Homo sapiens: one gene and its partner. The protein of the gene in region 2 purifies or fractionates together with the protein of the main gene of each other region. This does not show direct contact. Each region holds a gene or a part of one and is shown on either strand. Other genes may lie near its edges.

What was found.
Region 1: the proteins of OPCML (region 2) and TRIP12 purify together in Homo sapiens (affinity purification with mass spectrometry; 2 studies listed by BioGRID and IntAct, with this or other methods). This does not show direct contact.

Annotation. Positions count from the first base shown.
Region 1 is NC_000002.12:229,908,635-229,925,333, forward strand, and holds the start of TRIP12 (E3 ubiquitin-protein ligase TRIP12), read right to left. Parts: upstream 13,376-16,699; 5' UTR 13,246-13,375; intron 13,156-13,245; exon of another isoform or gene 12,637-13,155; intron 453-12,636; exon of another isoform or gene 331-452; intron 1-330. Other genes in the region: FBXO36 (F-box only protein 36), read left to right, coding at 13,880-13,975. UniProt on the Homo sapiens protein: E3 ubiquitin-protein ligase involved in ubiquitin fusion degradation (UFD) pathway and regulation of DNA repair.
Region 2 is NC_000011.10:132,649,495-132,666,193, reverse strand, and holds part of OPCML (opioid-binding protein/cell adhesion molecule isoform b precursor), read left to right. Parts: intron 1-8,874; coding exon 8,875-9,107; intron 9,108-16,699. UniProt on the Homo sapiens protein: Binds opioids in the presence of acidic lipids; probably involved in cell contact.

The DNA of each region.
Region 1 (16,699 bases), on a different chromosome or scaffold from region 2:
AGGCAGGAGAATGGCATGAACCCGGGAGGCAGAGCTTCCAGTGAGCCGAGATTGCGCCACTACACTCCAGCCTGGGTGACAGAGGGAGACTCCGTCTCAAAAAAAAAAAAAGATTTTATGCTGCTGGACATGGTGGCTTACGCGCCTATAATCCCAGCACTTTGGGAGGCTATGCGGCCAGACATGATGGCTCATGCCTGTAATCCCAGCATTCTGGGAGGCCGAGGCGGGCAGATCACTTGAGGCCAGGAGTTCAAGACCAACCTGGGCAATATAGCGAGACCCCTCTACAAAAAATAAAAAAAATTAGCCAGTCACAGTGGCACATACCTGTGGTCCCAGCTACTGAGGAGGCTGAGGCAGGAGAATCACCTGAACCTGGGAGGCAGAGGTTGCACTGAGCTGAGATCACGCCACTGCACTCCAGCCTGGGTGACAGAGTGAGACTCTGTCTCAAAAAAAAAAAAAAAAAAGAGATTTTATGTTAGTTTTGTCCAAGTTTACCACTCTCCCTTTAAGACTGTAAACTCCAGGCCAAGGACTACATTTTATATATCTTTATAATCCTAAATCTTGGCCTAGGGCCTGAAATAAGAAGTGTTCAAAAATACTTATTATACCCTGATAAGGGCCAGGAGTGGTGACTCATGCCTGTAATCTCAGCATTTTGGGAGGCCACAGTGGAAGGATCACTTGAGCCTACGAGTTTGAGACCAGCCTGGGCAACATAGGGACACCCTGGCTCCACACACACAAAAAAAAAAAATTAAAATATTAGCTGGATGTGGTTGTGAACACCTGTAGTCCCAGCTAGTCAAGAGGTTAGGGTGAGAAGATCGCTTGAGCCCAGGAGGTTAAGGCTGCAGTGAGCAGTGACTGTGCCACTGGACTCCAGCCTAGGTGACAGCGTTGAGACCTTGTCTAAAAAAAAAAAAAAAGCCTGGTACAGTGGCTCATGCCTATAATTCCAGCATTTTAGAAGGCTGAGGCAGGAGGACTGCATGAGGCCAGGAGTTCAGGACCAGCCTGGGCAACCAAGATTCTGTCTTTACCAAAAAAAAAAAACAAAGTAGCCAGGTATGGTGGTGTGAGCCTGTAGTCTCAGCTACTCAGGAGGTGAAGGCAGGAGGATCACAAGATCCAAGGGCTTTCAAGGCTATGGTGAGACATGATTGTACCACTATGCTCCAGCCTGGGAGACAGAGTGAGACACCCAACTCTAAAAACAAAAAATATATATATACCATTTGCTTATAATTCACATGTATTAATTCCATATCCACTGCTAGAGTAACTGCACTGACATGCCTTAAATGATTGCTTTTCTAGGTTTGAGAGTATTGCTACATGCAATTCAAGCAACACCTTTAAGAGCTAAATGCAGCAGTTGCTGAAACCAAGATAACTCCTTTCCTTGAGCCATGATTCTAATACTAGCCCTTAAAATAGAAACAATTCCAGAATTTTTTTAGAACTGTTGTTTTACTAAGTCCTTGATTTTACACTCCTTAAAATAACTATAGATAGATTAAGCCATTCCTAACTTTACAACTGTCTGAAGAAATATGGAAAACTTCCCAAATCCTTTACTATTGCATTAAAAATTTAAATAAACTCAGCAGGAATCATGAAAAAGTTCTAAGTTTCTTGAGATACAGTAAACTCTCAGAAGTTAACTCTGTAATTATGAATCACCTTCATTTTCTTTTTTAGTAATAAGAAACAAAACCGTAACACTATGGCTGAATATCAGTAAACACATGAGTTAGGTAGTAGACCCATTTTATAGAAGAGAAAGAAACTCTGGTATTCCAGCAAACATAAGTTTACCAATTCCTTAAATGATTCAAGAAATAAACTGAGTATCAATTAAAACATGTACCACAATGAAGATATAAAATGATGGTGTATTAGCTCTTCAGTAATTCCTTTCAGTAGTCCTTACTTTCTGTAATGACAAGATACCTGGAAAAAATGTCATGGCCTAATATACAGGCAGCTGAAAAGTAATACTAGATGGTTAGAAGAGGCAGAAGGAGATTATCTTACAGCACCACACCAAAGGCTGAAATACCCCAAGTCTTAGTTCATAGCAGCAACTGGAAAGGCAACACTTTTCAAAAGGCAGGATGAAGAGTAGAGTAAAAAAGATGAACTCTGCAATTAACAGTCTAGTTTTCTGAAAGGATTTTGAGGCCAGAATGTGAAAATCAACACTAACATTACTAATGACAGTTGAGAAATAATTAGTAAATAGGTCTGATCACAAAGTTAAGACTACTGAATCTTCTTAAACATCAGCCTACTTGTTGCCATCTACTGGGGGAAGGGCACAAATGCATTTGGACCTGGGGTGGAAGGGTAGAGAGCAGGGTCAAATTCCCTTGAGACTAAGCTGCTTTCCCTAGGTGGGAAGAAATGAAAATACATGCTTCATATAAAGGAAAAAATATATGAAGCTGGGTGGCTGTTTTACAGAAAAACAGGCACTCTTGTGCTACAGCAGTAAAACAGATAGACTTCACGAATATTTTTATTCTAAAGTCCACAAAATGTTGGACAATACAGCCTTCCTTACTCTACAAACAGGTACAATTCTGAGTCATAAATCTGCATAGCTAGCATCTCTGCTTTCTACATAAGAATCAAATTAATCCAAACTGCAATTAGGAAAGTCTGTAAGAACACACCAGAAATAAAAGCTGCTAAAGAAAGCTAAATATCATAGCTATCAGAACACTGAAAAAAATTGTTTTTAGTTTCTCTTCAGCCACCATACAACCTAACTTCTCATTTTTAAAATCCTGTATACATACTTGTATAAAAGTAATGGTATCTGTTAAAGGATATAAAACTGTGCTAGATAGGAAGAGTATGTTCTCCTGTTCTATTCCACTGCAGGGTGACTATAGTTTAATATACAGTTTCAAATAGCTAGAGGGAAGATATTGAATGTCCCAACACAAAGAAATAATAAGTGTCTGTGATGATGGTATGCTAATTACCCTGGTCTGACTACTATACATTGTATGTATTGACACATTACTAAGTGCCCCATAAATACATACATATTATGTGTCAAAATAAAATTTTAAAAACAATTAAAGGGGTAACAACTCTACTATGCAGAGTGCAAAGCGAATATTTTATTAGAATATTTAATTTGATTAAACTATGTAATATTAATTTGTACTTTTTAAAAGTATTTACATATTTATCCCAGAGTCAGTAATGGCTAGAAAAAAAAAACCAGAAGTATTTAAATATTTAAGCCACAATTCACTTTTGTTTTAAACATAATTTCACTGTATTGAACGCTAAGCAAAAGTTTCCCTATATAAGACTTACAAATTACTGAGGACAACTCACAAAAAATCATGCATTAGGTATCAAAAAGTATTTTGAATTACAAAAAATCTGAACAAACAACAGTTGAATGTGCTGAGACAAAATGACTGATAGCTTCCACTAAAGGAAGACTTCTGTGTCCAACAGAGGACTGGTGTGGGTCATTTAGACAATAAACCAGCTTCTGCTTATTTAACATTTTAAACAACAGGAAAAAACAAGAAGTTTTACCTTCACTACTTCTATCTCCTCCAAAACTTAATACAAAAACTTTTATATGTAGTATCAGAAAGGGAAGCACTGTCATAAAAAATGACATCTAAAAGCACTTTTATTTTTGTTTTCAGTTCATTCATAAATATTTTTGTACACCTTTTTCACATCACCTATTCAGGGATCAACAATCATTCAACATAATCTGTTAAATCTAATTCCGTGATCTCCCATTTAAGAACTTCAATAATCTCAGCCCAATTTCCTGTTATTTCATATATATGGACCCTCTACTCCAGAGAGCCCATTTACCTTAATATTAGATCCTCACCACAATTACACCTTTAAGCTCCCCATTCTTCTATATCTTCCTCCAAACAATCAGGGCCAGTTTAAGCCCCTCTCTCTTCATAGTCTTCCTAAGTAACTTCAACCCAGAACTGAACCTCTCTAAACTTCCAAGTACCCACTGTATAAAACTCGATCTTGTACTTAATAACAAATATGCACAATGTTAGATGTTGTGTGCTGTAGTCGTAAGTTTCAACTCATCTACAACAAAGTACATTTCAAGATAAGGAATCTCCTTTTATAAATCTCTTCTTTTTCAGCACCCTCTAAGAGGGCAGATCTTGTATGGAACCAGATATGCACTCACATTAGCTGCTGATGAGTATTTGTTTTTGTTTTTTGAGACAGAGTCTCACTCTGTGGCCTAGACTGGAGTGCAGTGGCATGACGCACTGCAGCCTCAACTTCCTGGGTTCAAGCAATCCTCCCAAGTAGCTGGGGCTACAGGCATGCACCACCACATCAGGCTAATTTTTTATTTTTAGTAGAGATGATGTCTTGCTGTGTTGCCTAGGTTGGTCCTGAACTCCTGGGCTCAAATCATCCTCCTGCCTCAGCCTCCCTAGGGGTTGGAATTACAGGCATGAGCCACAGCACCTGGCTGAATATTTGTAAATGAAGATGCTTCAACAATTTATTTAGTATAGCCACAAATCATGCCCTAATTCATGTTTCTTAATTTACATTCTAATATCAGATTTTCTAAATGCAGAAAATCTACATTTAGAATTTTACAGAATATTTCTCTATGCTAAATACTATACTCCTATATACAGTTTTAGACAAATAAGCTGTGATGGAATAAGATAAATATCAACTATATGAAACATAACAGAACTTGGAAGACAAGGAATAAGTTTCAGGTCCCTTTTATATTCTGTCAAGCACAATTGTGGCACACAGTAAGCACTTGATAAATATGTATTGATAAATAAATCATCATCTACTAATAAACATCATCTCCAAATGCTAAATTTGGGGTAACCAACTAACTAAAATATTCTAGGGTCTTAACAATTCCTTAAGTAGCTGATTTTAATGAGCCTAATTTTGAAAAATTTATATTCTACACTCAGCTGCCAACCCCTGAAAAATGAAAACAAGCAAGTAAATTATGGCAAACGATGCTAATATTATTTCACAACATCGTTTCTCAATGTGTCACACCAGAACACACTACCACGTACACCTACCATGTACAATGCATTATGTTGGAAGCCTTGTGCTAGACACTGTGAAGATAAAAGAATGAGATCTCTACCTTGAAGAGGCCAAAAACCCAGTTAAGTTAAAATGTAAACAACTAATTATGTAAGACAGAACGTGAAAGTCATCCTGAAATATGTTACAGAAGGAGAATAGGAGAGTAAGGAGTAAAAATTTTAAAGGAGTCACTGGAAGAAAGTTAAGTGTAAGTATATATATTTCTAAGAGATACAGGCCAGGCGCGGTGGCTCACACTTGTAATCCCAGCACTTTGGGAAGCCGAGGTGGGTGGATTGCCTGAGGTCAGGAGTTGGAGACCAGTCTACAATCCCAGCTACTCAGGAGGCTGAGGCAGGGAATCGCTTGAACCAAGGAGGTGGAGGTGGAGGCTGCAGTGAGTCGGGATCGCACCACTGCACTCCAGCCTGGGCGGCAAAGCAAAACTCTGCCTCAAAAAATAAAAATAATAATAAAAATAATAGATACAAGATGTGAGAGGGGGTGTCAATTCAAGTAGACAAAAAACCAAAGCAAAAATGCTAAAAAGTTGCTGGGTGTGTTCAGAGAGGAAGAAACAGTTCAATCTGATTGCAGCCAAGGATGTAAAACAGAATTACGAAACACTGGGGTCTGAGAAGTTGACAGCATTTGCATATATTTCCTATTTACAAGGCTACTAGAAGCACTTGGTTTTTGAGAATCAAAAAAAGTAGGGGACATTCATATGATCTCTATGAACCTGCTCTCTAAGGACACAAAGTAGCTTAAATTACAACTGAAGAGAGAATTTCAAGAGATGGGCTACTGTGAAAACTCACTTTAGGTTTCCAGGGCATCGCACATGTTTACCAGTATAAAATCTTTAAATTAAGTTCATCTGACCTTAAGAACACAGCACAAGGTACATCTATTTATTCAGAGCACTGCCCACGGCTAGAGTGAGTAGGAGTTTTGAAGTCAGGGTAGAACTCATTGGTTATGACAGCCAACAAGTTGATTAAAATACACACTGAAATGCTGTAACTTCAAGTCTTGAAGGCTTGTTGATGGACACTTAGGCTTATAAATAGCCTTCAAAAATCCATGTATGGGTAATAACACCATATTTATAGAAATATGTACATGCTCTCTAAAAAGAAACAAACAGAATAAACTACAATGATGTATACTATTATAAATTGGAAACACTAATCATTTAGCACTGCATTAAAACATATTGGCCAGGCACAGTGGTTCATTCTTGTAATACCAGCACTTTGGGAGACCAAGGCGGGTGTATCACGTGAGGTCAGGAGTTCAAGACCAGCCTGGCCAACAGAGTGAAACCTGTCTCTACTAAAAATACAAAAAATTAGCTGGGTGTGGTGGCAGGCACCTGTATCCCGGCTACTCGGGAGGCTGAGGCAGGAGGATTGCTTGAACCCGGGAGGCAGAGGTTACAAGTGAGCCAAGATTGCGCCACTGCACTCCAATCTGGACAACACAGCGAAACTCAATCTCAAAAAAAAAACTTATTTAGGTCCTCAATGTACTTTATCAACTATTACATGCACATAATGGTCAATTAAAGAGTAACAAAATGGCTTGCCCTAATTCTTTTTAAAATGTATGATTTAAAGTAACTTGCAGTCTCCAAAATATATACTGACTAAAAGTCTCAAAGTCATTTTAGCATTAACGATGCAAAATAAGAATCAAAATTTTAAAAATAGGACATTAAGCCATTACAAAATATTTCCACTTACAGTATCTTATTTTATTTTCACAAGACTTATTCTGTCAACAAACGCTTAATCCCTATCATGGGCCAGCTACTGTGCTAGATGCAGAGATAAAAAGGGACACTACTTGGGATTAGTGTCCTTATAAAAGTTAAAAAAAGGGTGAGGGCTAAAGACTTTAAAGAATTCATAATCAACTAAGGAATACTATTGTATACTAAAAAAAAAAAAAAATTTTTTGAGACAGGGTCTCACGGTCACCCAGGCTGGAGTGCAGTGGCACAATTACAGCTCAGCACAGCTTCCATCTCCCAGGCTCAAGCAATCCTCTCACCTCAGCCTCCCAGGTAGCTGAAGACTACAGGCATGTGCCACCATGCCCAGCTAATTTTTTACTTTTAGTAGCAACAAGGTCTCTACTAAGTTGCTCAGGCTAGTCTCAAACTCCTGGGCTCAAGTGATCCTCCTGCCTCAGCCTCCCAAAGTTCTGGAATTACAGGCATGAGCCACTGGGTCAAATGTTTCAAGTAGGATACCTATGCATATAACAGAGGTATGTTCGAGTTAAAAGAGTTTTAACAAATGAGGCAATGGTCCACAGTACTGTAAACAAGTGGAGAAAGGGCCTTGTGTTCCAATTCATCTGTGGAGCCTAATCTAAATACAGAATGTCTAGCATATAAATGACAACTGACTCTACATTAGGTGGTAATAATCAAATTTTTCAGATTAGGCACTTGAAGCTCACAAAGTACTAAGTTAAATTATTTGCCCAAGGTTACAAAGATGGGAAATGCATAGCCAGGATTGGAACCTAAGTCTTGCCTTCAAATCAGATAATCACTTGAACAGTGCTATTAAGGAAAACACACAGTAGCAGGTATTTTTCACTCTAGACCATTTGAATGACTTTTTAAATCAAGCATAACCATGATAGCCAAGTGTGGAGGTGCCCGTCTGTGATCCCAGTATTTGGGAGGCTGAGGCAGGAGAATCACTTGAACCTGGAAGGTGGAGGTTGCAGTGAGCCGAGATCGCGCCACTGCACTCCAGCCTGGGTGACAAAAGTGAGACTCTGTCTCAACAAACGAACAAGCATAACCATGAAACTGACTACTGCCAATAGCTTCTGCACTCTCAAGACAAAGCAGGTAAGCCTGAATAATGGGTAAGTTCCTTTTTCTTCTATCCAATTCAGTTTAATGAAATCACTGAAATCACAATAAACAACCAAAATCTAAAAGGCCTCAGAGAAAAATGACTGAACAGACTTATTTCAGTCTAGGAAACCTCTTTTTGCCAATAACCTAAAACTATCAGTAAGTTAGGATATTAAAGAACTACATTTTTAAAAAACCCAAGACATTAGCAGAGTTAAATTTTACTTAAAAAAAAAAAAAGAAAAATCAAGGGACAGGTCTAGCATCGGTATACTTATCTATTTATTACAAATAACAGCAAGCATCCATTATGCACAGAGAAACCCAGCAGAGAGGTAGAGAACAACTGCTTTGAGGTTATGTCTTCAAGTCTGTAACACAGCTGCTGAAATGATACACAAGTACCAAAAGAAAATACACAAGTAAAGCTTACATTACACTACACGTTAAGAATTACCAAGCACTGGCCGGGCGCGGTGGCTCACGCCTGTAATCCCAGCACTTTGGGAGTCCAAGGCGGGTGGATCACGAGGTCAGGAAATCAAGACCATCCTGGCTAACAAGGTGAAACCCCATCTCTACTAAAAATACAAAAAAATTAGCTGGGCGTGGTGGCTGGCACCTGTAGTCCCAGCTACTCGGGAGGCTGAGGCAAGAGAATGGCATGAACCCTGGAGGCGGAGCCTGCAGTGAGCCAAGATCGCGCCATTGCACTCCACCCTGGGCAACAGAGCGAGACTCTGTCTCAAAAAAAAAAAAAAAAAAAAAAAAAAAAAAAAAAAAAAATTACCAAGCACTAAGATTATATACAACAATCTAAAAATTATATTTATTCTGTAACATCCACCAGATTTTTACTCTTCCACCCTATCTGGCCTGGACTCTCCTCAGGCTTGGCCTTATTAACTAAAGCTTGGCCTATGAAAAAAGTGGCACAGAATAATCCACTGGCTTAACACTAAAACATGGCAGTGACAGTTGATATCCATCCAGGCACTCTAATGGCACGTTAGTCAGGGGAGATGTGAAGAGGCCCTGATCACTGAACCAACCAAGAGAAAGCATTCTGAAGAATCTGCTGGGGTCAAAGAACCCTTCCAAGCAGGTTGGAGTCCAGTGGCATGATCATAACTATTAACTTCAAATCTCTGGGTTCAAGCAATACTTCCGCTTCAGCCTCCAAAGTTGCCTAGAACTACTGATGCATGCCACCATGCCCAGCTAACTTTTTTTTTCTTTTTTGTGGAGACAGTCTCACTATGTTGCCTGGGCTACAACTCCTAGCCTCAAGCGATCCTCCCACGTCCTCACCTCCAGTGCCACCTCACCCAGACCAATCAGGTTTATTAGTATACCTTCACACATACCACATTGACATGAAATCATCCTTGCCCTCAGGAAGCCTACAGTCCAATCAGGGAAACAAAAGCAACACATGTCAACAAATGCAATACTGTAATGCAGAAACGAAGCAAGTACAGTTAATCAGAAATACAAAGATCACAGGTAGAAACTTGTTCGAGGAAGTGATCTGAAGACATGAGTTGTAAGTTGTTCTTCACATCCTTTATCTTCTATGTTTTTCTGTACATAGTGGGTGCTTGCTTGATTTAAATGAGGGAAAAGTCCATGTCAAACAGGCAATTGCAAGGAATGATTTCAGTGAAGATTAAAAAACCAAGTAGGTTGCTGTTTTGACTTGAGTCCATCAAATAGCAAACAAAAAAATAAAGGAGCAACTGGTATCACATTTGCTCAAAAAGATCCCTACCCATCCACTTAAAAGGGGGGAAAGTTCCCTAGGTTCTGTAAAGAAAACAGTGACCAAGATTCAGAAGCATTATTCCCTAATTGTAATCTCTTACATTAAGTCAATTTCATTAGAGTCACAAACCAGAACAGGTACTTTGTCAATAAAAAACGTAAATGAATTTGAAGTTTCTTTAAACATATTAACAAGTTTTTTCAGTAGAATGTATGGCAAACAAGTATCTGGCATGCTGATACCAAAAAAAGAAGGTAACTTTAAAAAGACAAAAATGAGACCCAAATTCTACTACCAATTAAGCAGCAATTTCAAATTATGAAGTTCTATAACTCTGTACCTTCAACCTAGTTTACATTAATTCTCCCCTGCCCCATGGACCACCACGACTAATGAGAAGCTGTATCTTTTAAAAATGACCTCAAAACAGCTCATGTAATTTTCTAAAATTAATTTATTTAGCATGTTGTTTTTTTTCAGTCATTACATCTGTTGGGTCTCACAACCACCCAGTGAGGTAAAATAGAGATTACCCACTCCCATTTTACAGATAAAATAAATGAAGACCAGATAGGTTAAGTGACTAGCTCAAGGTCACAAAGCTACTAACTGGTAGTGTGTGAATTTCCAAGCCAGTGATGTTTTCCTTGCTAAGATGAAAACCTTAAAATAAAGCAGGATATTAAAACCTTGTCTAGATAACATAAATACAATAATCTTACAAGTTACACTGGGGCCGGCGTGGTGGCTCTCCCCTGCAATCCCAGCACTTTGGGTGACCAAGGCAGGCGGATCACCTGAGAGGTCGGGAGTTCGAGACCAGCCTGGCCAACATGGTGAAACTCTGTCTCTACTAAAAATGCAAAAATTAGCCGGGCGTGGTGGCGCGTGCCTGTAATCTCAGCTACTCAGGAGGCTGAGGCAGGAGAATCGCTTGAACCAGGAGGCAGAGGTTGCATTAAGCCTACACTGCACCACTGCACTCCAGCCTAGGCGACAGAGCAAGATTCTGCTTTAAAAAAAAAAAAAGTTACAATGGGAAAGGAATCATACATGGAATCATACATTACTACAAATTTACTTTGCCAGGTGAAAGTACTGATTTTACCGTGATCTACCTAGCATCCCATTCGTTTTTTAAATGTAACTACTTTAGTTTAGCACCTTCTGGAACCTAACTGCCAAAATTGTTCTCAAACTTTTTGAAAGTAAATGAAAAAAAAAAAGAAAAATAAAGCCTGTTCATAGACTCAAACTAAGTAGTATAAATGTCAGCTGAACAGACTTAAAAACTGCTCACACTCCAGAAAAACTGGGGATTGAATGGAAACAATGATAATCTTAATTACAGTTTTCCAATTCTTATGGATATTGGCACATTCATAGAAAGGCAGACATGTACAAAGCCCACAAACCCCAATCATATTATGTACTCTTAAGCTTAAAATAAAACTCCCTCAATCTCACAAAGATAGTCACAGCAGTTCAACATTTCTGGGGCTGAACACACAGCAGGAAGTGTCAAAAGAAAGAATTAGAAATTCTGTATACTTTAAAACTTACACTTAATATTGATCACTTTGCATGTGGTAAATATGAAAATCAGCCTCAATAAAATCCTCTACAATTTATTGTCTCTAAACCTCTGCTAATTCCATTCCTCAACCCCCCCGGGGTGTAAATGCGACACACACAGGCCTCATATACAGGCCTCTTGCCTTTTTTTCTAACACAACTAGGACCTTTGTTCTGAGCGTCGTTTTACCCCACTCAATAGCTCTTTCAACTTTCTACCCCGTATTTTTTGTTTTGTTTTTAAAGAGGAGACTCTGAGACTCAACTTGCTAGGTCTTTAAAAAATGAAATGCCAAAAATACCTAATGAGACTCTCGAGAGGAACATAAAGTTAAACACATCACTAAAGGGCCTACAAAACGGAGTAAAGCCCGGAGATCGGGTGATCTGGCAGCCCAGGCAAGATCGAGGACCGCGACTAGGAAAGGAGACAGCAGGAGAGCAGTTAGACGTCCACTTAGAACGGATTCACTGCGCTATTAACCGTACCCGCCTCCCCCCGCACCGGCCCAACCTTTACACACAAACACATTCCCTCCCCCAATTAACTAAAGAAGCAATTAAACTATGCCCACCACCAGACTCGATGCTTAGGCTAAACCTCCCCCAAAGTAAAACAGCATTATCAAAAAAACACAACATTTGTCTTAAGGGTTTGGAAGCTGCCCCTTCCGTTATCTCCTCACCACGTAAGGTAACCAATTCCCTCCTGTCCCCCACCAGGAGTTCAAAGTGTGATTTCCCCCCGATTTACATGTGTTTTTATGTTTTTCCGCATTTTTCCGTCTAGGAAATGAAGGATTTCTTATTCTGAGGAAGGGAGAGACGCCGAGGAAGACAGGATTTGAGGTTTTACTACCTTCGTTATTCGAACTCCCCTCTAACTTGTTCCTGTACTAGAAACCCACTCACTATGGAGAAGGAAGGAGAGGGGCTGAACTGATGGACAAACGTTGTAAATAATAGGTTTTATGTAATCCACATATAAATAAATTAATCGCCTGACTCGCTCTGAATGCTAATACGATTGGGGTGACAATTGGCCCACCTCCCTCCCCCAAGTCCTAGTTAAACCCACCTACCACCAATTTCCATTCTGATCTATTTAAAAGGATACTCTATTCCTCTCAGTCAAGTTTCTCGGCTTCTTTAGGCCTCCCTGCATGCCCCCCTCGTCATCATCCTCCCTCAGCCTCAACTTCCCACGGCTTAAAAAACTGCCCCGCGCAGACCCCGTCTCCGGGCTCGCCCTCCCTCAACCGTCCCTCGCCGTCCCCCTGGGCAGGAAACCCCTTACTGCGGTCTAAAGTCTCTCTGGCCTCTCCCTTCTCTGACCCTCGCTTCCCACAACTGTTGTCACTGGAGCTGCTTCCTAGTTTCCATTTCCGGGCCGTCCACGGCCCCGGAGCCTCCCCTTTCCCGATTTCCGGGCCCCTCGTCCCATTTCCGGGGAACCCTTGCCGTCTTCACACCCCCCACCTGCACTTCCGGCCCCCCACTTTCTCTCTTCCCAGACACCCTCCAAGCTCCAAAGCCCACTTCCGGCCCCCCTTGGTCCCCGCCGAGCTCCCCAACACCCGCAAGCCTTACCCCGGTTCTGTGAAGGGCCCTCCTCATTGCGGGAAGCCGGAGGAGGGACCCAGCGACCCCTACCTCCCGCCAGGCCCCGGTCCCTCCGGCCGCGGCCGCCCTCGAGCGTCTCTCCCGTCCACCCCCGGCCCGGTCCTTCCGCGGCCCCGCCGCCGCCGGCGCCGGGAGCAGGCCAAGCGGGGGCCGAATCGCGGCGATGACACAACCGGGCTTCCTGGGACTTTCTGTTCCAGCTCCTCCCCCCGCCCCCCCAACCCCTCAGCTGGCCCCCTCCCCCAAGGCTTGCCCCCGCCGCCCAGAGCTGCGCCCCAATTACCTAGTTAGGCCCCAAAGTCTCCGGTCCGGACTCGGTGGCGCGGCAGTAACTTCCACTAGCTCCCCCCACCCCCCCCAGCGGCGCGGCGGCGGCGGCTCCGGGTTCCTTCAATTATCAGCTGAGCCGCAGCACCGCGCCCGGCGTGCGCCTCCGCCCGTGCCGCCTCCCTCCCCGCCTGCTCTGACACCCTCGGGGAACTACTTTGTCCTCGGGCTCCGGTTACGGGCTCGTCCGCGGGACCGGCACCGCTGCCTACTGGCGGCCCATCACATCGCCCCTCCCTCCCACGCCTCCCGGCTCGACTCTCTCAGCAGCCTCCGATCTCCGCCCGATCCCTTCGAGGGACCAGGAAGGGGACTGTGGAGATCTACTTGGTATCCCTCCGCCGGGGTCACCCCCTCCCCTCCGTGGTAGCAGGAACTAATTCCCCCTCGGGTCACCCGGGACCTGGAGCTGGAAATTTCACGGATCAGGGTTCCCTAAGACCCTTGGAAGAGGGGACGATCGCCCCAAGTTAGAAATCCTTCTGCCAGCTCATAAGCGTGGTTCAATTTAAACTAGGGTTTTGGCCCCTTGACCCCAACCAAGCCCCGCCCCTTCCTGGTTGTCTTAGCGACGGCGGTGGCGTCCCAAGATGGCGTCGTGGCTGCCGGAGACTCTCTTTGAAACTGTAGGACAAGGCCCGCCGCCTAGCAAAGACTATTACCAGTTACTGGTCACCCGGTCTCAGGCAAGTGCGAGCCGCGGTTTACCCTCTCTCCTAACTCCCTACCTGGCCCGGTTGGGGCCCGGGACGCAGGCTGTGCTAGGCCAAGAGCAACCGTAGCCCGCCGGAAGCGCCCAGTCCCGGCTCCGCGCCGGGAGATTTTCCTCGTCACCTCGGCCTCCTCGGTCCGACGGCCCGCGTGTCCCTGCTCTCCCCGAGCCCGGCTAGTCCCTGGCAAGCCTTCTCTGCCTCCCCGCGGTGCCGCGTGCTCCTTTCCCGCCACCCCGGCTTCTTACCCGTAGAGTTTCCTCCGCGCGAAGAGGAAAACGGGCGTCTCCGGCTTGCGTGCGGCCTCACCTCAGCGTGAGAAGGAGGGAAAGAACGACTCAGCCAAGTGTCCCAAGGAGGAGCCGGCTAGGGAGGGGAAAAGGAGATTGCCTCTTTTCCAGGATAGGAATTAATCATGGAGAATTTTATAAATCTCTTTGTGGCCTTTACGCGTGCCACGGCCACATCAAAACTTAGTTATTTCTAGTAGCAACTGACGATTGGGAGCTCTTACCTTTTGGAGTCCCTTCTATCCCATTGAAAGTGTGCGGGTGGTGGTATAAAAATGTTTCAGCTGCTCTGCGCTTCAGCCCCACCCATAATGACATCTGCTCCACAACAATAAGACCGAGGATTATATTATCTCCAAAGTAACCATCGGCCTATTTTTATGCCTACTTTGGTTATTGAAGGTGGGCTTTTGGATGATTTACTGTGTCCATGAAATTCTCAACTTGAGCGGGGCCTCCATTGGGAAGACGTTTCTAATCCTGGCTGAGTTTACGCCTGTCACTGAGTTATTCATGCACCCTGCCCTTTCAATAGATACTATTCCTATAAAATGAAATTTAGAAGTTTGTATATATTTGTTTTGGTGTGCATATTGATCATTCCCTCAGTTTTTCCAGGAGCCCTTAAACAAAATAGGTAATGAGTTAATTTTTTTATATTTTTGAAAGCATCTTTTAAAATATAAATGTTAATATATATTTTTTAATTTAAGATTTAGAAATATTACAAATGTAAAATCAGCCTGTCCAAAAAAAATTTTTTTTAAAACAGTACTGCTCCTTGCGGAGCAGGGCTAATTCATAGGCAGTGGGCCCAGGGTCAGACTCAAATTTTTAATTAAACTGTTCTTAGGGGGTTTTGCACATTTAGTGATGTATGAAATACTGAAAGGTATCCTTTTCTGTACTTTTTTTTTGGTGTTGTTTTTTTTTTTTTTTTTTTTTTTTGAGACGGAGTCTCGCTCTGTCGCCAGGCTGGAGTGCAGTGGCGCGATCTCGGCTCACTGCGACCTCGTTTCACCATGTTGGCCAGGATGGTCTCGATCTCTTGATCTCGTGATCCGCCTGCCTCGGCCTCCCAAAGTGCTGGGATTACAGGCGTGAGCCACCGCGCCCGGCCTTGTACATTTTTTAAACGGATTATTGATTTTTCCATTTGTTTTAAGATTTGTTTGTTTATTTATCGAGAGGGAGTCTCCCTCTGTTGCCCAGGCTGGAGTGCAGTGGCGCGATCTCAGCTCACTGCAACCTCCGCATCTCCTGGGTTCAAGCGATTCTCCTGCCTCAGCCCCCCGAGTAACTGGGATTACAGGCGTGCGCCACCACACCCAGCTAATTTTTGTATTTTTAATAGAGACGGGGTTTCGCCATTTTGGCCAGAGTGGTCTCCAACTCCTGACCTCAGGTGATCCAGCTGCCTCGGCCTCCCAAATTGCTAGGATTATAGACTTGAGCCACCGAGCCTGGCTGGCTTTAAGATTTATGATCCTAACATTTCTTCACCTCCTAACATGAGTGGTCAAAAATATAATCTGTTCTAATCTTACATGATTTTCTATTTTTATCTACCTCAAGTAAGTTAGAATGTTTTAATTTTTACAGCCTTTAAAAATTTGTCTTTTTTTGCATTTTCTTTCCCCTGAAGGTCTGGTATTTTACAAGTATGCTTCATTTCTCTCATTTGTAAGCCTCACCAGGCTGAGTATCTTGTTACCTTTTTATTTTAGTAAATTATCCTTAGGAGTGCTCCCTGGCATTCGGCTTCCTAAAGAATAATTCTGTTGTTGGTGTTCTTCAGACTTTGCTCTCAAGTCTAACTTAGGCGCATGCCTTCCTCTAACTACTCTTTTTTTTTTTTTCTTTGAGGCAGCGTCTCGCACTGTCGCCCAGGCTGGAGTGCAGTGGCTCAATCTCAGCTCACTGCAAGCTCCGCCTCCTGGGTTCACACCATTCTCCTACCTCAGCCTCCCCAGTAGCTGGGATTACAGGCGCCCGCCACCACGCCCGGCTAATTTTTTGTATTTTTAGTTGAGATGGGGTTTCACCGTGTTAGCCAGGATGGTCTCTATCTCCTGGCATTACAGGCGTGAGCCACCGCGCCCGGCCCTAACTACTCTTTTTTAAGAAATCTTTCCCACCATCCCTTCAGTGTTCTTAATTTTTCTTTTTCTTTCTTTATTTTTATTATTTATTTATTTATTTTTTATTTTTTGCAAGTGAAAAACTCTCCTTTATCTCAGGTTCTGTCAGTTACATATATATAAAATCCTAAATTCTGATCCATTTTCTTTTTTAAGCATGCTGAATAAATCCACTACACTTCTACCAGTGAGAGTTAATCTCCAAGCTAATTAATTCACCCTCTTTTTAAAGTAAAATTTGTTGTAAAAAATGGCATGCCAAAAAAATA
Region 2 (16,699 bases):
GTGAGCCACGTAAACCTCTTTTCTTTATAAATTACCAGCCTTATGGTAATGGAAATGGACGAAGACACCATCCTAATTCAGCTTGTACTCATGTATCAGTGTTCTGTGACTTTGTGTATTGCATATTGCTACCTCAAATCTGCGAGCTTCATGAAGGTAGAGGTGGGGCGTCTCTCCTAAATGTTCTATTTATAAGGCCTGACACAGTGTCTGGTCCTTAGCAGGTGCTTACTAAATATTTGTTAAACAAATGGACAGATGTATACTTTTTATTGTATCCATGAATGTGATAGGGTGCCTTTGTAATACTCTTGTGTTCTATCATTTGTCTGAGATCATAAGGACCTTCAAAGCAGGTATTGCCTTTTCAGATGTTTTTTGTTGTTATTTTTATTTCAACCTTGCCTACCTCTTCTTGGGAAACTAGTAATGTGATCTCCTCAACATACCCTGTGGATTTATAGAGTGACTTGGAGCCTGGGAAGAAACCAGCTCAATCATTCATTATTTTGTTCAGAGAGCTTTCTCTGGCCTTTCTGCTCACCCTTACTTTTTATAATTGTGTTTCGCTACCCTACGCTTTACTTCTTTTACCAAGATAGGAATTCTCCTCCTCTCTCCTCCCACAGCCAAGCAGTTTAACCCCACTTCTGTAGTTGTAAGCAATTTCTGCCTCTTTGTGGAGCCATCTTTCCATATAAATCACTCCTTTCATTTTCCTTCCCGGCATCAGATACTCTGTTCTGAGCTGCCGTCAGCACAGTTGCCTCACTTGCGTGGTGTGAGAAATTGCTTTCTGCATTCAGGTAGAGCCCTCACTGTGCTTGTGGGGACCAGAGATTCCCCTTGTTTGCGTCAGGACACAATGAGCAATTTCTGGTGGACTCATCTATCATCAGACATGGCTGAAAGTGCAGCACATTATCATCCAGTGGCTGATTTTCTGCCTCAGGTGATGCTGTTTTCAGGAAAGCCTGCAACCTCCCTTGGTTGTGTTTCCACTACTCTATGTCCTCATGTTGCAGGCCCTCACGTTGAAGGCATTAGTGTGTTTTCTCTGCATAACCTCCCCTCCCGCTCCACACACACATACACATGCACACACACGTGGGCATGCACCCTTCCTATGTATTAATGTGACATCTCCCCTCCAGCTGGTGTTAGTGTGGCACTGTCTTCCAATTTTCCAGCGAGTGGCAGATGTCATGTTATGTCAGATTTCAAAGTCAACCCGTTGCACTACTGAAATATTTTTGTGCTGTACTCTCCTTAAGTAGCTCTTATCCCTCACCATTTTTCTGCAGAGGCTTTCAGATACATTCTCAACCAATACCTTATCAGCAAATATTAGCTCTAGCAGAGTGATTACTCTCGTTGCATTTCCAACTATCTGAATCATAAAGTTTTCCCTTACATAATTTAGGGTCCCTGTTGATGCTCTGAAGTTGGCTCTATTTGTAACTCAGGAAATAAATGAGTAGTTAAAGCCTCCTGGGAGAACAGCTTTTGCAATTTAGAATACCTTGGGAGTTGATCTAAAAATATTTCATTTTGGCTTGCCTGTTCTTCTTTCCCTTAAAAAATTATTTATCACTGGTTTATGAGTTTATTAAAGCAAGGTCTTCCTCCCAGTTTTTGGACTGGCATTATTAATATATTTGGATACATAGTCAGGTTTTTCTTAGCAAAAATTCAATTAACTCTCAATTTATGAAAAAGGCAAATGATAAAAGGAAAACCAAAAAGTTACAAGATAATATGGGGGAATGTATTAAAAAAGTAAATTCAGAGAAATGCATTTCGGGCTTTAAAATTCCACCCAGCATTTCTTAAATTGAGTACTCTATAGAAGACCACTTTAAAAGCAGGGGTCAAGGATGGGAAGAGAGACAAGATTTTCATGGATTTCCAGTGGTAACTATTAAAAAAAAACTTTATATATGTGCAATCATAAAACTAGGTATAAATGCCTTAAGCTTACACTCTGATATGACTGTAACTTCTGAAATTATAAGTTATGCACATATATAGCCACTAAAATTTAAACTTGGAACATTAACTTAATGGAACAGATGATGTTTTATTAAAATTAAATCCACTTTGGGAGGCCGAGGCGGGCGGATCATGAGGTCAGGAGATCGAGACCATCCTGGCTAACGCAGTGAAACCCCCTCTCTACTAAAAATACAAAAAATTAGCCGGGCGTGGTGGCGGGCGCCTGTAATCCCAGCTACTCCAGAAGCTGAGGCGGGAGAATGGCGTGAACCCGGGAGGCGGAGCTTGCAGTGAGCCGAGATCGCGTCACTGCACTCAAGCCTGGGCGACAGAGTGAGACTCCGTCTCAAAACAAAAAACAAAAACAAAAACAAACAAAAAAAACAACATTAAATCCCAGGTTGCAATGTGGATGTGGCACTGACTGCTGTAAGGCCTGCCCTTCTGGGTTCCACGCTCATCCTGTGATAACGAAGTTCTCCTTCCACAGTGGCTCATTCTAGCGCTTGGGAACCTTCATTACTACAGTGGAGCCCATATCATTCAGCTTTTGCTGGTAGGAAGGCGTCACTGACAAAGCCAGTCACCTCTGTATTTTTGTCATCAGCCTGATATGATGCAAGGACTTCTCAATGTGCCAGTGTGGTGAACACAGGTGCAAATCTGAACATTTAAATTTAATTGTTGTCATACCACATCTAGCATAGGTTTATATTATACATCTCCCAATTACAATAGAAATGAAAACACTAAATTGAAAAATATACATAAAGAGCCCATGGACTCTATGTGTGTCTATGTAGATACAGATAAAGATATAGATTCAGTTATCCTGCAGAAAGACACATATATGTCCCCACATATAAGTCTCCTTATGTGGGTTCTTTTGATGCCCATTTGAAAAACATTGTCTTACACCTTTTATCACTATAAATATGTATTGATGACCTACTAGCTCCTGGGTAGAGGCTGGGAGGTGCTGGTGATACTGAATATGGTTACTATCCATGTGACATTCGTAGTTTAACACATGAGAGTATAAATAATTAAATTCAGTGATGTAAGCTCTATGAAGAGTCTAGGATCTTTGGTATTATCCGTATATTACAAAGAGAATGGAGTCTGAATTAGAGATTTAACTACATTTGCCATTGTCTACTAATTAAAACACAAAGGTATGCACCCTGTTTTAGGTATTATTACCGTAACAAAGGAGGAAACATAAAGGCATTTTCTAGTTAACTCTCAGTTTATCAAAATATCAATTATCAATTCTTTGAACACGTACAAAGTCCTCAATATATGAGGACACCATTTGTGAGGCTGGTTTAAAAGACTTGTTCTCCAACTACCCAGATCACTTAAATGTCCCTGCAGCTATCTGTGCCTGTATGTGAGATGAGAATTTCATTGTAAAGTTAGACACAATTTTCGGACATGCATCTTATTGCACCCAACTTTAGAGTTATAAACATTCAACCATTCAACGTCTGGCATGAGGCCATGGAAGGGCATTTCTTGGGAATTCTGTTCCAAATATATCCACAGTTCCCATGATACACTCTCCATTCCTTACCTTCTTTTATTTTATCCAGGTATCCTTCTGAAACAAATATATCTAGACATACATACTTTATTTGTCTCTCACTAGGTGTAGTTTCATAGGGCAGGAACTTTGTCGGCCTGTTCCTACTGTGTTCTCAGCTCCTAGGAAGTTATCTCATGCACCTTAGGCACTCACTCCATATCTGTTGAATGAATCTTGGCACTTTTTTTTTTTTTTTTTGCATTTTCAAAGACAAAATATAAAAACAAAAGTAAAGAACACAAAAAAGTTAAAGCCAATTGATTTTAATTTTCAGTGATTATTTTGATTAAAATTCCAACCTGTCACTTGCCTCATTTCTTTAAGGCAGTGAGTGGTTCTCCAGGAGGAGTCCCCAGAGCCGCAGTATCCGGGAACTTGTTGAAAATGCACATTCTTGGTCCCTCCAGACCCATGAACCAAAAGCTCTTTGGGGGCTGGCTTCAGCAATCTGTTTTTGATGCACAGAAAAGGTTGAAAACCACTGCTTTAAGGCATGGATTTCCCTAAGTTCACCTCTTCCTCTGAAAACAAAACAAAACGACCCTGAATCTTAACCCCACGGTACATATTCAGAAACATCTCTGCCTTCTGATGTCTGTCAGGCATTTCTTTGCTCTTCCAGACTCTCATTTATACCTTCTTTCCTCACACATGGCTAGAGGTTAAGAATGTGTACAAGTGTCTTCCAGATAGCTTTCCTTTTTTCTTATCTGTGCCTTGGGTTCCTCATCTGTAAAATGTGGATATAATATTAATAGAACACATCTCAAAGGGTAGTTATTAGGATAGAATGATTTGATATATTGAAAGTTCTTACAACTATGCCTGGTGCAGTACAAGCAATATATAATTTTAGAGGTTACTTGTGATGTAGTTGTAATGAGTTCTGTTTTATCAAGGATCAGTAGGTAGGGTTAGCTTGGAATGTAAGAATTTTAAATATCTGAAATAATTTCCAAGACATCAGAAAGTTGTCATTAGCCTTCCTCAACTTGCCTCTTGGCTCCCCCTTATTTAACTTCAAAAGTGTTCCCCTCTGTGCTTCTTGTTAATGAGAGTCCAGGACACGGCCACAGACAGCAGGGAAGGAGCCTGAGTTTAGAAGAGCACTCAAGCCAACTTTTTAAGTCCTTCCCTGAGTTCTCTTTCCTGCTGTTCAGGGGACTATGGAAGAGTCCTATGGTGATGGAAGAAAGCATGAAGCCATGAAACTACATTTTCTTTTGAAGCAGAGCAACATCATGAGGAAAATAACTTTCCTCAACTGATTTCATTGTTTCCCTCAGTTTCTCTGTTGTTAGGTTCTGAGAACCATACAAACTTGTGAACCATCTTTGCCCATTTAGAGAGATGGCTTTTACTCAGTTACTCTTTTCTGTTTCTACTCCAGGCCCATAAGGAGGCCCAGGTCCAAGAGCAAGTACACCGGATCATGGCTACTCACCAGGGAGAGGATTACCCAAGGGACACACAGGCTTTCCAAGGGCTGTGTGGCTAGGGCAATGACAGTGTGTTCTGGCCCACAGAGTAGTTTTGGATTGCCCTTTTTCAAAGTCCACCCTTACTCAAGCCTGTGGCCACTTGCACTGGTTCTATGCACCCTCAACCTGAAGTGGTTGGTCCTATACAAGGACAACGATAGGATTCAGGAAATGCACTTCAAAGATCTCAAATTCCCTAAAGTTGATCTGCTTGAGTAAGTGCCTGAGGTTGCAGTGTAATTCTGTGTCTCCCTTCTGACAGCTCCCACTTCACACTTCGTCCAGGAGATAAACTTCTTTGGCTTTCTTTGTCACCTCCATCAGCCGACTGTCATGGAGCAGGGTATCAGTCTTGAAGGAGACTCCCACAGAAGCAAAGCAGGGCACTAAAGGCAATGGCACCTGATTGCATCAGGAACAGATTCATGGCAAACTAGTGCATTCTCCATTTAGAATTAGAACTTGGAGATGAGACATGTCCTAACAGAGGGCTCGGTGATTTAGCATATTAAAATAAACAGTATTTGTATTTTCCCAACATTTCTGAGTGTATTGGGTTAAACAAGGCACTTCCAGTAAAAGAATAACATCTTTTTGCAGCCATCTGATAAGGCCTGGTAAAATGGTATCATATACTTTCCAGATACTGAGAAATTGAATGAATTTGATGCCATGTTATAAACCCCTTTGCGAGTCAGGTATTTTCCAATTCATTGCATTAAAATAAATTGAAAGAGGAATTAATTGATTTGTCAGCTGCGAGATCATTGAAATTATCTTTGAAGCTATATTACTATGTGATTTTTGGCATATATCTTGGAAAGCATTCAAATAATTGAGTTGGCATTGCTATGCACAATTTTCATTTCCATCTTCTTATGTGAACAAGGTTTCTCTAAAAGCAAAAGTAGGAATAGAATTGATCCTGAACTCCATCTCATTCTAGCAGTGAGTGATATTTATCTACGGCATTTAAAAAAAGGGGCCTATCCCTCTTATTAAAAGCTATATTTCTAGTAAGTTTGCTTTTTCATGTTTAATTATTGCTTAACGAAATGTGCTCTATATTTATGTTCTATCAATTTTATATTTGTAATGATCATTCATTTAAGAAATATATTATTGCTTAAAGTTTTATGGTCATAGGACATAAAAGAAATTTAAATTTCAATCTCTGTATATTTTTGGTTGCAAATAAATATGGTAGGTGATCAATAAAAGACCTTCAAGCATAAAGTACATTTTTCTGCAGAAGATATATAGTGGAAAAACAAGTTCCAGTTTAAAAAGGAACAATGCACGTGTTATGACTTTTAGAAAAAGAGTTAGTTCCTGAATTTTGAAAGCAGATAATCAGGAGTGTTAATCACTGTGATATTTAAATTCTACTGAACAAATACACACACACACACACACACACACACAGGAATTTTGTGACTTAAAAAAATTTTTAAATGTGAATATGTTCTAAAGGCCAAAAAAATCATCCTTTTCAATTGTAGCTTACAATTTTTTATGGCAACTTAAGAATGTGCAAGGGGTTACATAACTAAGCAAAATTAAAGCAATATTTGTTTGCACTTAGTCACTTGGGTTGTGTGGTGACTAGAAGACCACACAACTAGAAGCGACTGGAACATCACGCCCTTCACTCTGTCTCAATTTAGCATCTAATTCCAGGTGTGCTGATTTTTGGAATTCTACTATTTGAACTTTCTTTAGGAGGAGCTCTTCAAACAGGGATTTCTCCTTTATGAAAATTCACCTATCCTTAGGAAAGGTTGCATATTTCCCCTTATCAGTCATTTGCAACTGAGAATGAATAAATTTATCATATTTTTTCCCCAAGAAAAGCCTTTGAAAGTGGGGAGCAGGGAGGATCCATTAACGTTTAAGATCCATTAGGTCTTCATAAGGGAAATAGAAAAATGCTATGGAAGTAAGAAAGCAACAGGAAAAGAAGCAAGATGCCTCACGATGTGGAGGAGATAACATGACTTCATTTTTTCTTTATACCAATGACATTTCTATAATGATGTGAAAGAATCATTCGATGGTACCTAGATTATCAGGTCCTACTGGTGAATGCAGTTGGGCCCTGGAAACTCGCTTACCTAGAAAGTATGCAGATTGAGGTCTGTAACTGCTGGTGTGCAAGGGATGCCTGTGGTCAAATAAAAAAAAATAGTTTCATTGGAATGTTAGAGTATGATTCTATTTCAGGTGAAAGCAAATCAGCACAAGCTTCATACAAGTTCATGCATGTGTATAAGGAGTAAGATGTAGACTGAGATATAACAAGTTGCTAGCAAATCACCATGGGGTGCTGGGCATTGGTGAGGAGTGAATGGTTAGATGGGTCTGTATCATCTTAGTGTTATTTACATGCATTATTCACTTTGTATTGTTCACATGCTTATTTAGAAAAGAACAATGTCTTCCTGCAATATTGTGAGAGTGCCTAACACCCTCCCTACCCAACTTCTCAGCGGCTAAAGGGCAGATGGGCCAGCTCATAAAAAGGCCTGGGTGACCGGAAGCTGGTATTGCTTTTATTCTTCCTACCAACCAGGGAGAGGACCGCCCTAGATCAGGTGCTTTCCCCATTCTAGAGGGTCATGGTTCTGGTGCTTGGAGACCCTGAGCCATGCAGGCCAGGTGAGACTGGTCACTTGGCCAGGTCCTGACATCTCCACTGTGGCCAGTGTCTCTGGGGTCCTTCCATCTCCTGAGACCTGCCTGAAGGATCACTGCTGCCACCCAAGTGTTAGGTCAGATCCAGTGAGGGAAGGCCATGCCTATTCCCCGTGTTCTCCTCACCTGCAGGTGCTGGACTCAAGTCCCTCCTCTCTCTGCCAGGACATTGGCAAGAGTGGTTGTCCTTGTGCATTCCTATGTGCAGCATGGAGTGATGGGTGTGCCTCCACACTTAGAAAGCATTCTGTTTCCTCATGCTTCCATTCCCACGTCCTCAGTTCCTGGGCACATGCGCAGACGTCCAACACTTTCAGTCCTATATCAGACCTGACAGCCTGCAGGTCATCCACACTGACACACAGGCCTTGTTTGTGTTCATAGCTTTGAATTGTTAAGGAGAGTAGGTGAGAGGTGTTGCACAGTTCCCTGCTTTGATAATAGCCTTGTTCTGTCTCCCAATGGGACAGGGAGTGTATGAGGAACAGGGATTCTGCTGATAATTTTCTTTTTCCTCTCCTGAAGTCCTAAGATGCAGTTTTGACTTCCTCAAGAAGTGTTGGCTTTCTAAGGTGAATTTTACCAACCTATGTTATAAATTGTAGTTTGCAGGCTTTCGGCTGCTTAGGGGTATAAGGAGATTACCAACACCAGGGAGGTCTGGAGGTAAATATGTTCAATTTTTGATTAACTACAAGTTAAGTATTTGCTTTGTGGGTTATCTGTGACCTATTTGAAATGCTGATCCACTCTCTCTCCCATGTGCCCCTGGGCCACTTCTTCCCCAAGGTGGTAAATGTGCTCAAGAAACATAAACTGATTTTCATATAAGCCTATGGGGAAAAAAATAACAGGGAAAGCAAATGGATGGCAAAGATACATAATATGTCTCGAAGTCAAATAGAAATGATTTTGTATTGTCAGTTCTTCAAGATGATTCTGGTCACTCTTAGTTTATATTTAGGAAGTTTCATCAATAATTGTTTCCTTTTAGCACTGTGTTTTGTTGTTTCATTTACTCCTCAAAATGCAACGTCTTATTTACCATATTATATAATCTCTCCACTCTCTCTCTTTCCCTTCTTCCTCCCTCCACCACTCCCTGCCTCACTGCAGGTGTACCATAGATGACCGGGTAACCCGGGTGGCCTGGCTAAACCGCAGCACCATCCTCTACGCTGGGAATGACAAGTGGTCCATAGACCCTCGTGTGATCATCCTGGTCAATACACCAACCCAGTACAGCATCATGATCCAAAATGTGGATGTGTATGACGAAGGTCCGTACACCTGCTCTGTGCAGACAGACAATCATCCCAAAACGTCCCGGGTTCACCTAATAGTGCAAGGTAAGTCCCAGCTGGATCTGGGGTTGCCATTCCCGTCAGTGATGGAGGGGAAGAACAGTGTTGGTGTTTGTTCTACCTGTGTGCGAAGACACAAAAGTCATCTTCCTCTACTGAATTCAGAGTTTGACTATATGTCTTGGAATGTTTCCCATCGAATGGGTACTTAACTAAGTGCTGAATATCTTCTCAAAGTTTCTAAATGTTATCTCTAGTCCTTCTGTTCTCATCAATACGTTGTGTAACATGCACTCGTATTGAGCTCTCGTAAGTTACTTAGCACTCTGGAGCTGGAGTGAGATACATGCAAACATAGATAAATACAGTACTACTCTCAGTGCCTTTTAATTCTCTTATAGGCTTATTTCATGATAAAAGACGAATAATGCCAATGAGAAACTACGTGACATGACTGTTTTCGCACAGTTGCTGGTCATGCATGCTCTGGAGGGGTCTCTGAGTGCTGTTTAGGCAGGTCCTCCCTGGCATTGCTGCTGTCTTTAAACACTCTCTCATAGCCAGACAATGAAGTCCAGATCCAAGAGGGATATTAGTCAGAATGATATCTGCAGGTTAATGTTAGTAATAAATTCAGACAATTTTAAAAAGGGAGAAGGAGGAAGGAAGACTTAGCATCTTCTTCCATTCTCCTTTAAAAACTTGAATCGACATAGCCCAGGAATTGTGTCACGTGCATTTTAAAATAGTTTTTAATTTAAATTTCATATTACACCTCAAAAATGGGGCTGAAGAAATGTCAGATTCTCAGATATTAAATATTAAGAATTAAAAACACATGCAGATAGCAGTTCCAAGAATTTGAGAACCATTTTAAAGCAAGGCAGCAATCCAAATGAACTTATTTTGAACTTGACCCCAACTATCATCACCATGTAAAGCCATTTCTGTCAGGTGTTGGCTCACGGCAGGAATGAAGTTGTAAGCACATTAGTTCCGTCAGCCAGTGATGCATCCTTCCTCCACCAAATGAAAGGTTCGGGTGGACTTCTTTCAGAGCCTCGTTTGCAGATATCTTGAGGAAACACAGTGAGCTCTCAGAAAGGGTCCCTATGTGTGATTTAGTCTTTAGCATCTGCCTTTTATCAGATCCCATCTGTCATAGATCCAACAGAATTTTTTTTTTTTTTTTAGTTTGTGAAATGTGTATGGCATCCTTGCTTAGCTAAGATAGATTCCTCATCTCTGATTTAAAAAAAAAAAAAAAAAGGACCACGATGTTGCTCATTTCAATTGGTTTCCTAGAGAGAGGTTGCGTGGGGGCTGTCTATTCATGCTTCAGTCACTTGCATGATTCAGGTTGCCCATTCTTTCCTTTTGGCGCAAGCAGCCAGGCCTGCCTCTGTAGCCATTTGTAATGGCATGTGTGGGGCCAGAGAGCTGTCTGCTGTCACTGCTGTTCCCCAGCAGTCCTTGGCACTGCCATGCTGCCTGAAGCTTTGCTCCTGCCCAGCCTCCAAGCCCTGCTCCCCTCCTCGCGTGCTTTCAGGCGTTCACACACGCCATCCGACAGACATCTACAGATGCTGCGGGTTTCCACTCTCCATACACGTCCACCCACAGCTCTGGAGTGACAAGACTGCCTGCCATCTGGAGATCAAGACAACTGTCACATCTGATACTTCTCCTCAGAGGACGACAGAGGCACTTGGTGAGATCAGTCATCGGAGATGAGCTGGGCTATCTGTTGAACGTTTCTGAGGGTGTAGAAAACAAAAGACTGTGAGCTCTCACTACCCCACCTGCCTGCACCTGGGCTTGGTTCCAGAGGAGCTGACATTCTCGGCATCGGAAGTGCCACCTCAGTGGCACCTCTGTGGCCTTGACAGCAAAGTTATTTTCAAATTCAGGAAATGTGGCACCGAAATAAAAAAGAACTGTCAGGCACTGTAGAGAAACAGACTCAAACAGAGCAAGCCTATCCCTTTTCAAGAACGAAGATAGATGATATAAGCAAATCAAAGTCAATGCACAACATAATGGGCTGGGGGCTGAGCAACAGAGAAGGATGTTCTCCATAACACATGCTGAGCGATCCCTTGGGTGGGATGTGGCAGCCTGTGGGGTCTCCCTGTGGACCTCCAAGCTTCAGGTCAGAAAAAGTCTAAGGACAGCATGGCATCTATTTCAGAGGTCAGCTCCTCAGTCTCCGCATTCCAGGCCAAGCTACTCTCTGGCTCCAGCCCTCTGAGGTGGCCTGGGAAGTCCAGAGGCAGTCAGGATGGGTGGGGGTGGGAGGGGAGGATATTCTTTTGGGGAGGAGCTTCTCTTGGGGAAGAGCTTCTCTTGGGGATGATGTTCTCTTGGGGAGGAGCTTATCTTGGGGAGGAGCGTCTCTTGGGGAAGAGCTTCTCTTGGGGAAGATCTTCTTTTGGGGATGACATTCCTTTGGGGAGGACATTCTCTTGGGGAAGATCTTCTCTTGGAGATGATGTTCTCTTGGGGAGGAGCTTCTCTTGGGGAGGAGCTTCTCTTGAGGAGGAGCTTCTCTTGGGGATGATGTTCTTTTGGGGAGGACCTTCTCTTGGGGAGGAGCTTCTCTTGGGGAGGAGCTTCTCTTGGGGAAGAGCTTCTCTTGGGGAGGAGCTTCCCTTGGGGAAGTGCTTCTCTTGGGGAAGATCTTCTTTTGGGGATGACATTCCTTTGGGGAGGACATTCTCTTGGGGAGGATCTTCTCTTGGGGAGGAGTTTCTCTTGATGATGACGTTCTCTTGGGGAGAAGCTTCTCTTTGGGAAGATCTTCTCTTCGGGAGGACATTCTCTTGGGATCCTTGGCAGGCTGGTTTGTACCTTTACTGAGAGGCCACAGAGAAGGAGATCAGAAAGCTGAATTATTTCCTCTTGCTTAGTGATCCAGTGACTTGCTCTTTCTTTGGAAGACAGTTGAATTACCAGAGGGTGGATGTAGAGACCCCACTACTCAGTTAGAAAGAAGCCCCAGAGTTCTTCTCCCAGCAGCATCAGCTTTTGTCCAGTCTATAGATTAATTTTTCAGACATAGTGTTAGTTCAGGTTAGATAAAGATAATGAAAGTTTCCTAATCCTCTTAAAGAAAATTTATCTGACTGAGTAGAAAGCTTTTGGAAGACAATAAGGCATGTATAAAACTGAGGCCTAATCTTGCCTTTAATTTCAAACTGCTGATGGGTATTGATTTTGCAATGAGAGAAAACAGAAAAATTTCCGAGCTGCCACTTGTCTGTTTATAAAAACAAAAGGTGTTTATGTATCTTCTGTCCATTTGAGAAGGTGGGTATCTCATTTCTTCTGCCAACCAGATGCCATCAGCAGAAGGGAGTGCACGCCTAAGGGACTCAGCTTTATCCCTCCTGCCATGGGAGCGCCTGAGAGACACTCTGCCACCAACTTTCCTGCCTGCCCTTTCCTGTTGTAGAAGGCAGCCTTTGCCACATATCTGATGGAACTAATTTCCAAATCCTTCTCATTGAGAACAGAAGCTGCCTTCATTAAAATCGTGTCACTGATACCTGAGGTACATCTCAGCCACTGAGGGGATCAGCACAGGCACCGTGTGAGCATGTGATAATGTGATCTAGGCTGCACACCTCAGTGTGGAGGAAATCCGGAGCAAGGGGGATGCTCAGCTGTGGGGTCGGATTAGTTGGGGGGAAAATCAGCCTGGCAGCCCCGCAGAGCAGGAGCTAAAGCGGGAGAAGCTGGAGGCACAAGCGCAGGCAGGAGTGACTCCCATCCCCGCTAAGCAGTGCAGCCAGGGTGACCGTGGGCCTACCTGAAAAGATCCAGAGGTGCCTGAGAGGCACTGTCCACAGGAAACTGAGAGCATTCATCCTCATACCTGGAAAGAGGAAGAATTAAAATGATATCACCCAGATTTTTTAGTTTGGAGAAATGCTAGTGATTGGGGAGATACGATCCTATGCCACTCGGAAAGAACAGCTTTGGGCTTACGAGGTCTAGAGATAAACAACACACAAACATTACACAGATGTTGCAGAACTAGGGAACAGGTGTAACCTAACACCAGAAAGGGCATATTTGAGATTCAGCATGAATTTCCTGGCTGGAGAGTAGGTAAATGTTCTGAGGTTAACTATTCGTAGATAACAGTAAGAATCATAATTTATTTATATCCAACCTCAGCACTTAGCACACCGTCTGAGGCACAGTAGGCACTCAGCAAATGTTTGTACAATGAGCAGAAGCAGATTGATGTTGCTACTGGAGTGGCATAGGAACACAGCGATCATAAAGCATCTTCCTGCAGATACAGGTGGCAGGGAAGTCAGACTATGTCCAGATGACTCGGAGAGGACAGTCATGGAGGAAAGGTCCCTGAGGGGAGAGGGTCCTCGATGTGACAAGCTAAGAGATTGTTCTAAAAGGATAACACAAATTCCAGGCATTTATTTAGTACTTTACAGAGATGGCACAGTGTTTGTCACCTTTGACTCACACAACAAGCCCTGGGAGGCTGTAGTGCAGTGACCGTTATCTCCATTTACAAATTAGGTAACTGCAGCTCATGGAGGTTAAGAGCCTGGCTGAGTCCCCAGTGAGTAAGTAGCAGAGCTGGGTCTTGAACCATGGCCACAGGACTTTCAGAGTAGTGTCTTTTCAGCATTCTGCAGTCCCTCCAATGCCAACAACATCCAAAGTTAGTTCTCTGCTCTAGATCAATGGAACATTTTCAGGATTTCTCTCTCTGTGTGTGTGTGTGTGTGTGTGTGTGTGTGTGTGTGTTTGTCATTCTTCCTTCTATTGATATTGCATTGTAGCAACAGAAATTGAGGACAAAGCTCAAGAAAGAAAATTAGTGGTGGGAGTGGGACACCAAAGCTACAATAAATGATGTAGAGAGGCTGTGAGGGGGGCAAAGAGAGGATAATTAATTTTCTAGTAGCTCATCCCTTCAGGGATATGCATTTTAAATGTTACCACTTTATCCTATGTAAGTACTGAAAACCCTGGACCCTCTGTGGATCCAGAATCTCATTGTCATTCTAACTGTCATGAGCTCTTCAGCACTCTGAAAGAATGCAGAGATCTATGTGTGCCAGTGGTATGTCATTGTCGTTGTTTGTTGGAGATAGATGGAGTAAGAAGATCCGTCTATGGTTGCTTTTTGGATGTAGGTATTCTCTACCTGCTTTCCTGCCTTGTTCAGAAATCTCTTCACTACAGGTTACTTCCTTTTATGGAATGAACTCCTCTTGCTAAGCCCAATTTTATGCAAAGGGCTGGAAATGATGAATTTTATTAAATTCTTACATAGGAGGCTCCACAGCAAGCTTATGCAATTTCTATGTAAACAAAAGACTCTACATCTCTTAGCCTGGTGTCAGTTCAGGTGAAATTGGTTGGTATCTGAAGTTGAGTTTTGCTTGTAAAGAAAAATGTGTTCCCAGCCCTGCCAGTCCTAGATATTGCTGATCACCAACCAACCTCAGCATTGGGTGCACTAAGTATAAACGTTATCTCAGCCGTTCCTTACATCTATCCACTCTACAGAATATCCACCCTAGTCATGTTTACAAATAAGGAAATGGAGGCTTAGAAAGATTAACAACTTACCCAACGCTGATGCAGCTGCCGCGTGCTTTAAATCCCCTTCACTAGACTTACTCATCGAGGTTAAGCTTTTCTCACGAGAAAAAAAGTTATCAAAATACAAACAGTTAACAAGGTACTTTATATGCATTATCTCTTTTGATTATGCTTCCCAAAAGCCCCACATGACAGAATAGAAAGGCACACCTTTCCAAGACCAGAAAGTGAGATTCAGAGACTTGGAAGTGATTTGTCCGAGTTACACTAGCGAGGAAGTGGCAAAGCAACACCCAAGACCGGGTATATTTACTCTGTAGCCACCAGAGTGTTCAACACACCACTGACTCAGAGTTAAATACGTAGACAGGTACTTGTTCTTATGTGAGAAAAATGTCAACCTTCAGAGGTGCTCCAGAAAAGGGTGGGCCCTGAGGTGACAATTCTGGGGTTGGGGCAGCAGGTGGATGCTGGGATTGCACCAAGGAGCGGTTGCAGCAGGCCCAGGGAGGCAGAGCCATAGGTCACAATTTTGCCAGGGATTTCCCTATTTTCAACTCTTTGTAAGCAATCTCTTTTTTTAGGCTATTTTCTCCTCTTTTCCTAAATATTACCCAAACATTTAAATGAACATGTGTGCTTATAGACTTAAAGAAAAGCAGGCAGTTAACCTGAAATAAATTTAATGTATTCAACCGCTACTTAAAATTGTAATCACATTTACTCTTCACAAAGACAGGATAGAAGAGTGGAAAACAACAGGACAGGCCAGCAGAATGCTCACTCCTCAGCCCTGCGCTCGGCTCCTAAAAGTGCAGGCCTGCATCTCCAAGACGTTCCTCTCCTGGCTTATTAACATGGGGTGAAGAGTAGAATTCAGAGTAATTTATTTATGTGCACATATGCATACTTTAATCCCATGTGTGGCTGTGTGTGTTTTTTTTGTGTGTGTATGTGTGTGTGTGTGTGTATGTCAATTGGAAATAAGATTCTGAGAAGGGGTCTCTAAGCTGCAAATTCTGTATATTAGTGCAGATAAAGCACACAGCCAAAATTAGGTTAAGGACTTTTCTGGGCGTCATGTCCTTGACTTTGCAATGGAAAGGTTGAACTGATGATATGAAAGTCCTTTCTAGTTATTCTGTGTGACAACTTGTCAGTGTAATTCATCTGGGAATTTGTGTGTGACCAGGAGTCTCTGCACTCTGTGTCTCTCCTACTTTCACCCGCCGATGGCACAATTACTAGGTTGGTGTGAAAGTAATCGCAGTCTTTTGCCATTGTTCCTACTATTTCTTATTTGTATTTTTCTCCAGAGGCTTTAGGATTTAGTGTCCCTTACTAACACTGCTAGTTAGGGGTGACTGTAAACCTTGTTGTTCACTTTTTGGTTAGAGAAGGTGGAAGAGAAAGATACCATTTGCTTCCAAGTTCTTCTCTAACATTTGTAACCTCCACAACCCACGTCAAGCGGACACATATTTAATGGACAGTGGGGTGGAATTCCAGAGGCCACAGAGGAAAGAGCCATACAACCTATAAAAACTGTGTGAGTGTGTGCATGTGACTGCAGAAGAAACAGACATGAAAACTGTGTGTGTGTGTGTGTGTGTGTGTAACAGTGCGTGTATGTGTGAGGGCATTCGTGAGTGTGAGTGTGTACGTGGTACCTCTGTATGTCTTAGTTCCTAAGCAGAGCAGAACAACCAACATATTTCTCCTCACAACAATGGGAGAAGAGACCTGATCAATGGAGAAATCATCAAACATCAAGCATATATATGTATACGAGTATATAAAGATACACATATATATGCTTGGATATACACATATACATGTTCAATGTTTGAGGTGTATATATGTATATGTGTATACATACACATGCTTTATGGAAGAGTTAGGCTAACTAAGAAGGCAACTACAACACAGAAGGAATCAAGAATGAAGTTACTGTCCAGAATACCCTCTATAACACATAAAGGAAGGGATCTCAAGTCTCCCTTCACTGGGAGGGTGTCCCCACACCACCTTCTGCACCTGCCCCGCCCCCT